Homo sapiens: one gene and its partners. The protein of the gene in region 1 purifies or fractionates together with the protein of each later gene. This does not show direct contact. Each region holds a gene or a part of one and is shown in the gene's direction. Other genes may lie near its edges.

Region 1 (3,654 bases):
ATAACTTGGCAAATGATTGAACAAATTTTGAATAACAAAATAGTCTAGGTCAAATCTAATATTGATATTAAATATATACAGTCATAAGATTATTTTGAAAATTAGAGAGTAAGATTAATGAAAAGCAAAATAATTCAATGTTGCTACATAATTCTAAGTTTATTCCAACATATATAATGATTAAGAAGAATATGTGTACATGGTTTTCTTTTTAAGGAAAAAGAGCGGTTGAAACAAGAAAAACGTGATGAGAAAAGATTAAATAAAGAGCGTAAACTAGAGCAGCGAAGATTAGAATTAGAAATGGCAAAGGAACTAAAGAAGCCTAATGAAGACATGTGCTTAGCAGACCAAAAGGTAATTTATACGTCATGTACACCATTTCATTCATAAGTTTAATTTTTCCAGTTTTCTTACCTGATTTCTTTGCCAGAGCTGCTATTGTGAAAGCCTTTCATTTTTAACTATAGCAGTGAATTTCCAACTCTAGGTCAATTTGCCTTTCCTAGATAGCTAGAAGTAAACCTCTCTGGAGCTCTTGTGCTGGTAATGGCGGTTTTTTTGTTTGTTTGTTTGGTTGGTTGGTTGGTTGGTTGGTTGGTTGGTTGTTTTCAGACAGGGTCTTACTCTGTCATTTAGGCTGGAGAGAGGGCAGTGGCAGGATTATAGCTCACTGAAGCCTCAACTTCTCGTTCCCAGGCTCAAGTGGTCCTCTCACCTCAGTCTTCTGAGTTGCTGGGACCACAGGCGCTTGCCACCATGCCTGGCTAGTTTTTTGGGTTTTTGTTATTTTAATTTTTTGTAGCGGCAGACTCTTATGTTGTCCTGGCTGGTCTTGAACTCCTGGGCTCAAGTGATACAGCCACCTCAGCCTCCCAAAGTTCTGGGATTCCAGGCACAGAAAAATCTCAACTCCTCCCCACATCCCTATGGATATTTAAATAAATGAGGATTTATAATCTGTGACCTCCTTCAGTGCTTTAGGTGGCAAACCTTTATTGAACATGTTTACTACATGCTAGGACTGTGCTAAGCACTTATTTGAATTTTCTCATTTAATCCTCAATACAATCTTGTGGAGTTAGTATTTCTTCCCATTTATACATGAGAAAACTGAGACACAAAGAGGTTAAGGAACTTGCCCAAGATTACACAACTAATAAATGGCGATTTGGATTCAAACTCCAGTTTGTTAAACTCCAGAGCCTATACTGTTTATCATCCTGAAAGCCAAGAAACTGTGTCCAACCAAAGCACCTCATATGTGTTTTGTCTTCCATAGTGCTTCACAGACATGTAATGTTGCTGAAATACATAAAAGTATAAATTTAGAAACATTGCTGTAATCTTGGCAACCAGCATAATTTCATATACTTTTGAGTAAAAATCAATGATGTTTTGACTATAGTTAAGAAGATGGTACTTCTAGAAAAATATCAATAATGCATTTCATCTCTATATTATTATACTTAATTAGTAGGATATGTATTTACTTATATGCAATATTCAAATGATTTGCAAATAATGATTATCTCTTGATTTATGTAAGCTCTTTTTTTATTTTATTTTATTATTATTATACTTTAAGTTTTAGGGTACATGTGCACAATGTGCAGGTTAGTTACATATGTATACATGTGCCCTGCTGGTGTGCTGCACCCATTAACTCAATTATGTAAGCTCTTTTCTAAAGTGCTTAAAGAAAACTTTTAGTACTCTAGAATGGATTGAACTATATTAATATTCTATTTATTTACTTAGCATAAATGCTTCTAAATAAAAATGAGAGTATACTTACTAGTTGTAGTCATTTGGATATTTAAATTTTCCTAAGCAGAGAATGGGTATATAAATTAGTTAACACATTTAATAAGCTCATAGTGATCAAGCTTTTTAAATCCTAAGTGAGCTTCATTTTCTTGTATCTTTTATTTTCATTTAAATTCATATGTACTATATCAAATATGTAAGTCCATTTTAAGCCATATTTTTAATAGCTCAGCTTTGCTACATAAATTTTTAGAATTACATAGAAATGTATATGTTTCCTGTGGTTCAAGAAAAAGGGAGAATGAGAATTAACTGGCTTTCAAGAAGAATATAAAATATTTGTATGAGATGAGCTATTATCTATAGTTTTGTGTTTCCACACAGTATTAACAGAAAAAGTCTTCAATTGGTTACCTCAATAAATGCAGAGTGGAGAAATATTTTTGAACAAGGACCAATTCAGATAAATAGAAATATTTATGTCACTTTTTTTCCAATTAAAATTTAAAGTACTTTTTTAGGCTCTCATTAACAGGCAAAATGTTTTTAATTCAGATTACCTATTTATTGAAATTTTAAAATGTTGATGACAACTGGTACTGCAATTAAGTCATTAAAATGTTAATATGTGAGCATATTTGAGAAATAACAACAGAGATAGCTAATTTTAATACTGAAGCTAATACTTGCCTAAATACAGGGAAACCTAAAGACCTTTAGTTGCATTATAACTGGGTTTATGTACAGGGTCATGGATTCTAGTTATGTGGACCTAGTTATTTATCTGCATTCATTAGCCATAGATGGTACCACTTTCTCCAACCATAGAGCCCACAGATGCATGCTGTTTGTTTCTAAGCTACAAAAAAAGTGTGATTTTTAAATGTCATCATCATTAGAAGAAATTGGTGCACATGCCCCTATAAGTATGTCCATGGTAAAGTACTTTTGAAATGTTTATATTTTATTTAATTTTTGCTCCAGTTATATAATCCATGTTTTGTTAATATGGATATGTCAGTTGATTGAATATGCAAGTTGATTAAAATTAATGTCTCTTTTGCAAAGATCTAAGTTCATAATTGAGTTCAACCAAAATTTATTAATGGTTGCTTACTTGTATGAAGATACTTCAAGACACTATGCTTAGTTCCATGGGGGTTACAGAAATGCCCCCAGAGAATTTAGCATCCCAAAGGAAGCTACTGGTACAATACAAGAGGGGAAAAAAGGTAGCAGCTTATTTTACTTTAGAAGATACGAAATCATGGCTTTTAAAAAATTAAGCTGTTTTTATTTTATTTGTATTTCATTTTATTTTCAGCCTTTGCCAGAGTTGCCTCGTATTCCAGGACTTGTTCTCTCTGGAAGTACATTTTCAGACTGTCTCATGGTGGTGCAGTTCTTACGAAACTTTGGTAAAGTTTTGGGCTTTGATGTGAATATTGATGTTCCAAACCTGAGTGTTCTTCAAGAGGGATTGCTAAATATAGGGGACAGCATGGGTGAAGTACAAGACTTGCTTGTGAGGCTCCTCTCAGCTGCTGTATGTGATCCAGGTCTAATAACAGGATACAAGGTAAAAAAAAACAAAATATAAAATGTTTTAAATTTGTACTGTCAGTGCATTGGTAGATAGCTTTAGCATATTAGCAGAAGATTATATAGATTGATCTAATTTTTCCACATAATGTCTCACAAAGTTAACTGTAGATTTGTGTCAGGTTACACTTCATACAAAGAAAACCTGGTTATAAAGCTTAAGGAATGTAGACCATTCTCAAGTTATTCTTTTTTCCTCTAGCTGTAGGCAAAGACCAAGGTGATTTAAGGAAATCCTTAAGCGATATTCATCAACAACAGAATTCATAATTCATAAGGCAA
Region 2 (3,654 bases), on another chromosome or scaffold:
TGGAGCCTGGGGGAACTGGTCTTGGAGGAGGCCATCTCTCTGTCACCCTCAAAAGGTGGTGATGTCCCAGGGAAAGACCCTTTCTTTCACCCACCCAGTATGGAGCTCTCCTAGGAAATTTTCAAATTCTCTTAGGATGCTCTAAGCTGCTGCTTGGGCTGTGCAGCTGCCCACACCCAGACTGTCCTTGGACAAGCTTTCTACCTTCTCTGTACCTCAGTTTGTCCATCTGTCTGGTGGTGATCAGAGCCATTGCTGCCACTGAGTGTCTTCTATATGTCAAATACTGTGCTAGAGCAAGCTTCATGTGCATTATCTGTTTTTCTATTTTTTCTTTTTATTTTATTCTTCTTATTTTTTTGTTTGTTTGTTTTTTGGGTTTTTTTGTTTTGTTTTTGAGATGGAGTCTTGCTGTGTTGCCCAGGCTGGAGTGCAGTGGCAGGATCTCAGCTCACTGCAACCTCCGCCTCCCCGGTTCAAGCAATTCTCCTGCCTTGGCCTCCCAAGTAGCTGGGATTACAGGCACGTGCCACCTGCCTGGCTAGTTCTTGTATTTTTAGTAGAGACAGGTTATCACTGTGTTGGCCAGGCTGGTCTCGAACTCCTGACCTCAGGTGATCTGCCTGCCTCAGCCTCCCAAAGTGCTGGGATTACAGGCCCAGTCGTTATTCTTGTTTTTTTAAAGACAGCCTGTCACTCTGTCACCCAGGCTGGAGTGCAGTGGCATAGTCACAGCTCACTGTGACCTCAAACTCCCAGGCTCTAGTGATCCTCCTGCCTCAGCCTCCTGAGTAGCTGGGACTACAGGTGCACCCCACCATGCCCGGCTAATTTGGGGGGGGCACAGGGTAAAGACAGTGTCTCGCTCTGTTGCCCAGACTGCTCTCAAACTCCTGGGCTCAAGCAATCCTCCCTCCTTGGCCTTCCAAAGTGCTGAGATTACAGGCGTGAGCCACCACACCCTGCCTATCTCATTTAATTCTCACTATACACCTTGGAGGTGCAGGGGATAGTCTTCTCAATAGAGGTTAAGTAACCTGCCCAAGGTCACCAAGCCTGTGGCATCAGGATTCCAGCTCTGGCTCATAAGCCCATGTCTGTAACTGCTGTTTCCTGCCCACTCTCAACAGTGGCTAATTGGTGAGGTCCAAGCAAAATGATTATAAAAAGATCCTTTAAGTTGTAAAGTGCCCTGCATGTGGGAGGGATTGATACTGCCGTTATTATTTCTACATCCAGAGCAACAGTAGCTTTGGTTATATGGCTTACAGCAAGTTGGAGGTCGTGGGATGTAGCAGCATTGAGTGGGGAGAGCACTGGACTGTGAGCCAGCAGACTTGAGTCCTAGTCCTGGCTCTCCTTGAAACTGACTAGCCATGTGGCCTTGGCCACTAAGCCGCCTGGGAAATAAGCTCACCTACTCCGTGTGGCCCTTGTGCAGCTCAAATAAGATAAAGCCCAAAAGACAGCCAGCATGTTGCCCAGCTCTCGGAGGATACCCTGCTAACGGGAGGTCTCTCTCTGCCTTCTGCATCGTCATCAGGATGGGCCAGGTGGGACGCATGTCTCCGTTTTAATGCTGTTACTCTGCAGTTCTGTGCTGTCACGTGGTCCCCAGCCCACCACTGCACATCAGCCTGAGGCTCCCTAGTGGCCCGTGAAGCTTTTGGGCAAGAAGCCAAGGCTGATGGGTGGTGGCCTTTTCACATTGTTTGGTCTAAAGTGGTGTCCGTGGGTACTGCAAACCTCTGACGAATTGCCGTCTCCCCACTGCCATGTACAAATCCAAGCACCAGACAGGATGACTGCAGACTCAGCTCCCTTTTTGATCCTTCTTGCCTGGCTGTGAAAGTGGCTTGAGGTCTCAGAGGCAGCTCTCTCAGCCTGTACCCTCCATCCTTTCATTCACGTCCATGTAGACATTATCACTCAGGGAAGTGAGTGTTCCATACTGGGGAAGTCCCCTTGGGAAGGAAGTCACATCATCTCCAGCAAGTGAGAGAAAGAATAAGCCCTAATAGGCACTCTTTCTGTTTTTTTTTTTTTTTCTTGTAATTCTTCTTTTTTCTTTTCTGACTCCGAAAGTAATACATGCTCATAGTAGAAAATTGAAAAATACGGAGAAAAAGGCCCCTATTTCCTTCTCCAAGGGAAGGCTATTGTTAACATTTTAGTCTTTGGACTTAATTGGAGAGTAATATTTCTGGAGCAAATATTTCTAATATTCTGGTATGTGTTTAGTGTTTTACAGGCATGATCTGATTCCATTTTCACAGTAAGCCTGTGAGGTATGTAAGTTTATCATCATGACTTTACAGATGAAGAAACTGAGGCACAAAGAGGTTAAGGGGCTTCCTGACGGTTCCCTTGCCTTCCTTGACTTCTTAGCTTATTCTGCCTCTTCTCAGGCTCCCCTTATCCTAAGTGAGCATCAGGTGGTGGATCAGTCAGATTCTGACAGGAAACAGAATTCCACTCAGATGCTTCACCTGAGGAGATGTTAATAAAGATGTGAGCAGGGTGAGGGGAACCCACATGGGATGGTGAGGCACCCACAAACTAACAGTGACAGAAGGCATTACTAGCTCTCGGCCTGAATGAGCAGGAGGGAGTGGTGTTACCTGAGTTCCGTGACTGGTAGAGGTGGGCAGGGAGCTGTCGCAGAGGGGCTCAGCCACCACCAGGACCACAGAGAGAGAAATTGGGGAAGATACACCCAGGATCTCTCTCCTTCCACCTTCTGAATTCCTGCCAGTGCCTTCTTCTTTATTATTTTTTTTTTAAGACAGAGTCTCTGTCGTCCAGGCTAGAGTGCAGTAGCATGATCTTGGCTCACTGCAACTTCCACCTCCCAGGTCTGCCTCAGCCTCCCTAGTAGCTGGGACTACAGGCGCCTGCCACCACACCCAGTTAATTTTTATATTTTTAGTAGAGACAGGGTTTCACCTTGTTGGCCAGGCTGGTCTCAAACTCCTGACCCCAAGTCATCCACCCACCTTGGCCTCCCAAAATGCTGGGATTGCAGGCGTGAGCCACTGTGCCCGGCCCCTGCCAGTGTCTTCTATTGGCCAAATGGAACCAGAAACCAGGAGGCAAGGGAGCTCAAGGGACAGTCCAATGGGCCAGCCTCCTGCTTCTTCAAGCAGGTCATGGATCTGGGGGTGCACATGGAGACTAACAACCCAAGCGACATGGTTGTAGGGAGATGGGAGAGACATGTCCTCTGACTTCCCAGAAAGAGTTGTCTTAGTAACTGACTATTAAAAACATCATTCAAAACAAGAGACTTTTTTTCTGCCTGGGAGTCTCTTGGTGTTTTGGTGTCTCCTCCCTCCCCTGCCCCCCATCTCCTCTCTCACCTGGTTCAGAATTTCCAAGAACACCTGGGCAACAGTCTTTGGTGTCATCGGTGTGCAGGGTTTAGAAGAGACAACCTTGCTTGCATGATACATGTGGCTGTGTGTGTTCTCATGTTGTTTCACTGCTGTGCCTATGCATACAAAGACATGCTTCTTGTGTACATGTCATAAGCATCTATAACATAGTCTCCTCTGTATCCAGCAGAATATTCACTTTTTATTTATTTATTTATCTAATTTTATTTTTTTGAGATGGAGTCTTGCTCTGTCTCCAGGCTGGAGTTCAGTGGCATGA
Region 3 (3,654 bases), on another chromosome or scaffold:
AGAGAGGAGTGTTTATTACATTACTATACCATGACACTGAAAATATTTTGAGACAAGATGATACTGTATTTTAAGATTTAAGTTATTTCTGGATACAACTTGGAAATTCTTAAGAGTTCAGTTTATGGTATATATATCATAGTTAATTTATATTTCAATATTTGGGATATGTTATATATTTGATGCTTAATTTTGTTACTATTTTATTTAATAAAATGATGTTTTGGAAAGAGGATTTGCTTTATGATTATGACTCTTTAAGAAGGGTATTTCTTATTGGGGAATTTACTGTCTGTCAGATAATTTTTCTTCCCTTCAAACTATTTGAAAATACATTTTCAAATTCTGCTGCTTATTAGCTGTGCAAGGTTGGGCAAATTACTTACCCTCTCTGTGCTTCAGTATCATGTAGTTACAATGGAGATGATACTTGTAATTACGTCATAGGTTTCTTAAGAGAATTGAATGGATTAATGTTTCAAGTGCTAAGAATGTTGTTCAAAGTAAGTATTTGTTAAATAACTTTGAAGGAATGAAAAGGAAAGTCCTTACTTTTCTTTTGTTTTGCAAATTAGAAAGCCGACCGAGCAAAGAGATTTGAATTTTTACTGAAGCAGACAGAACTTTTTGCACATTTCATTCAGCCTTCAGCACAGAAATCTCCAACATCTCCACTGAACATGAAATTGGGACGTCCCCGAATAAAGAAAGATGAAAAGCAGAGCTTAATTTCTGCTGGAGAGTATGTTGGCACCTCTCTCTCTACTTTCTTTCCTTTCTCCTACCTTTTCTTCCTCCTGTCCTCCCTTGATCCCTTCATGCACCCCTTCGCTCTTCATTGTTCAGTATACCTTCATGTGACAAAAAATATTGCCATTATAATTATGTTTTGAAGACAACTATATTTTTTTCTCACTAGAGGCTGATCAGTAAAAATGTAGGCTGGTTCTACTGATTTCTAAGCAAGACCTTGGACAACTCATTCTTTTTCTATAAAAGATAATAGCCATGTACACTGATTTAATTGATACCTTATCATTTAGGTCGAATATGAAGGGATTTCCTTTTTTAATTTCAGCTACCGCCATAGGCGCACAGAGCAAGAAGAAGATGAAGAGCTACTGTCTGAGAGTCGGAAAACATCTAATGTGTGTATTAGATTTGAGGTGTCACCTTCATGTAAGTACTTCATCACATTGGTGAGTTCTTTTTCAATTTAGTTTTAGAAAAATTTTACTTGAGTATGTTAATGAAAGTATGAAATGTCCTTGCATTTTTTCACCAGATGTGAAAGGGGGGCCACTGAGAGATTATCAGATTCGAGGACTGAATTGGTTGATCTCTTTATATGAAAATGGAGTCAATGGCATTTTGGCTGATGAAATGGTAAGGAATTGGTAGCTAAAAACACATTCTCAGTTATCAATGATTTTTATGTAAATTTGAAAAACCTGAGCTTACCTGCCCCCCTGATGCCTGGAGGCTTTTTAAAAGTTGTTATCATGTAAAAGGTATTTTGTAGTCTTAGAATTATTATTATTTTTTTGAGAGAGGATCTCTTTGTGTTTCCAGGCTTGAGTGCAGTGGTGCAATCTCGGCTCACTGTACCCTCGACTTCCTGGGTTCAAGCGATCCTCCTGCCTCAGCCTCCTGAGTAGCTGCGACTCCAGGCACGTGCCCACCACACTGGGCTAATTTTTATTTTTATTTTTAGTAGAGACAGGTCTCGCCACGTCACCCACACTGATTTTGAACTCCTGGGCTCAAGCAGTCCTCCCACCTCGACCTCCCGAAGTGTTGGGATTACAGGTGTGAGCCACAGCACCCAGCTAGAATTGTTTCGTTAAGTCACCGCTAGAACACAGACTTTCACAGGCCATAAAACTCTTACTGAGCTTTCCTCAAATGGTCCAAAAACCTTCTCTGTACTTTTGTTTTTGTTTGCATTTTGGCTTCCAGGAAGCACAGAGTCAAGATGGATGCCCAAATGATGCCTTTATGTAACTTTTTTTTTAAAATTTTTTGAGATGGAGTCTCGCTCTGTCACCCAGACTGGAGTGCAGTGGCACGATCTCAGCTCACTGCCACCTCCACCTCCCAGGTTCAAGCAATTCTCTGTCTCAGTCTCCTGAATAGCTGGGGTTACAGGCGCCTGCCACCACGTCCGGCTAATTTTTTTGTATTTTTAGTAGAGATGGGGTTTCACCGTTTTGGCCAGGCTGGTCTTGAACTCCTGACCTTGTGATCCACCTGCTTCGGCCTCCCAGAGTGCTGGGATTACAGGTGTGAGCCACCCCCACCCTGGCCTTATGTAACCTTTAATGGTCTGCCCTGTGTGTCCTTCTGTCTTTTCCTATTCTTTATCTACTTGTCTTTCTTACTTTCCTTGTCGTCTCTTTATTTCTATTTTGCCATTAATTTATGTTCCATGTTTTCATTGTAGGCTACCTGAAATCCTTTTGGGAATAAGGTGGGGTATACAAACCAAACAATATGTAAATGACTGCCTGAATATATGCATGTGTGAATGATTATCAATATTTTGACTTGTGAACAATCAAAAAGTGCATAGGTGGAATAAGGAACGAATAAAGAGTAATGTTGAATCTTGATACAGTACAGTGCATGGTGGGGCTTTGGAAATCAGTGAAGGAGTTATAAATGTGTAAATAAAATAACTGAACAGGAAAAAGTAAGGCATATAAGATGCTAATTCATCAGCTAAAGGGGGAATACATGAAGGCTTTTTTTTTTTTGAGACGGAGTCTCGCTCTGTCGCCCAGGCTGGAGTGCAGTGGCATGATCTCGGCTCACTGCAATCTCCTCCTTCTGGGTTCATGCCATTCTCCTGCCTCAGCCTCCCGAGTAGCTGGGACTACAGGCGCCCGCCACCGCGCCCAGCTAATTTTTTGTATTTTTTTAGTAGAGACGGGGTTTCACGATGGTCTCGATCTCCTGACCTCGTGATCCTCCCGCCTTGGCCTCCCAAAGTGCTGGGATTACAGGCGTGAGCCACTGTGCCTGGCCCCATATTTGTATTTTAAGACCAAATTAATAAAATGCGATTTAAGAGAGGGCAGGGAAAGTTCTAAATCCATATAACTCAATGATACTCATATTTATGTGACTCTGAAACCATACTTGTAATCACTATTATCCAGAAGAGCCACATGATGATACGTGCCCTATGGCGTCTAGTATAGTTGGTAGTCAGTCGCATAAGTACTCATCCCTGGTTGAGCAACTGTTAGGTGTGTGGCAGAGGATCCCTTAAAGCAAGGGTCTGTAGCTCCTTATATTTAGGTATTCTAGTTTGAAGACTGTTGTCAGCTCAGAGGGGGAGGAGCTTGGTTAATTGGACAATGGAAGGACCAGGATTATTTGCCCCAAGCAGCTCTTGGCTTCAGCCTGTCTAAACATGAAGGATCTGATCTTTAGTGATGAATTTGTGCTGATATCAGATATATGTATTATATATATAATATATAATATATAAATATATATAATATATACTTACTTTTTTTAATATATATATATAATTTTTTTTTGAGATGGAGTTTTGCTCTTGTTGTCCAGGCTGGAGTGCAATGGCGTGATCATTGCTTACTGCAACCTCCACCTCCCGGGTTCAAGCGGTTCTCCTCCCCCAGCCTC

Evidence for each region.
Region 2: the proteins of BAZ2B (region 1) and EPB41L1 purify together in Homo sapiens (co-immunoprecipitation; one large-scale study listed by IntAct). This does not show direct contact.
Region 3: the proteins of BAZ2B (region 1) and SMARCA1 purify together in Homo sapiens (co-immunoprecipitation; one study listed by IntAct). This does not show direct contact.

The regions. Positions count from the first base shown.
Region 1 is NC_000002.12:159,386,048-159,389,701, reverse strand, and holds part of BAZ2B (bromodomain adjacent to zinc finger domain protein 2B), read left to right. Parts: intron 1-216; coding exon 217-357; intron 358-3,094; coding exon 3,095-3,349; intron 3,350-3,654. UniProt on the Homo sapiens protein: Regulatory subunit of the ATP-dependent BRF-1 and BRF-5 ISWI chromatin remodeling complexes, which form ordered nucleosome arrays on chromatin and facilitate access to DNA during DNA-templated processes such as DNA replication, transcription, and repair.
Region 2 is NC_000020.11:36,161,097-36,164,750, forward strand, and holds part of EPB41L1 (band 4.1-like protein 1), read left to right. Parts: intron 1-3,654. UniProt on the Homo sapiens protein: May function to confer stability and plasticity to neuronal membrane via multiple interactions, including the spectrin-actin-based cytoskeleton, integral membrane channels and membrane-associated guanylate kinases.
Region 3 is NC_000023.11:129,513,419-129,517,072, reverse strand, and holds part of SMARCA1 (SWI/SNF-related matrix-associated actin-dependent regulator of chromatin subfamily A member 1), read left to right. Parts: intron 1-575; coding exon 576-742; intron 743-1,078; coding exon 1,079-1,179; intron 1,180-1,285; coding exon 1,286-1,386; intron 1,387-3,654.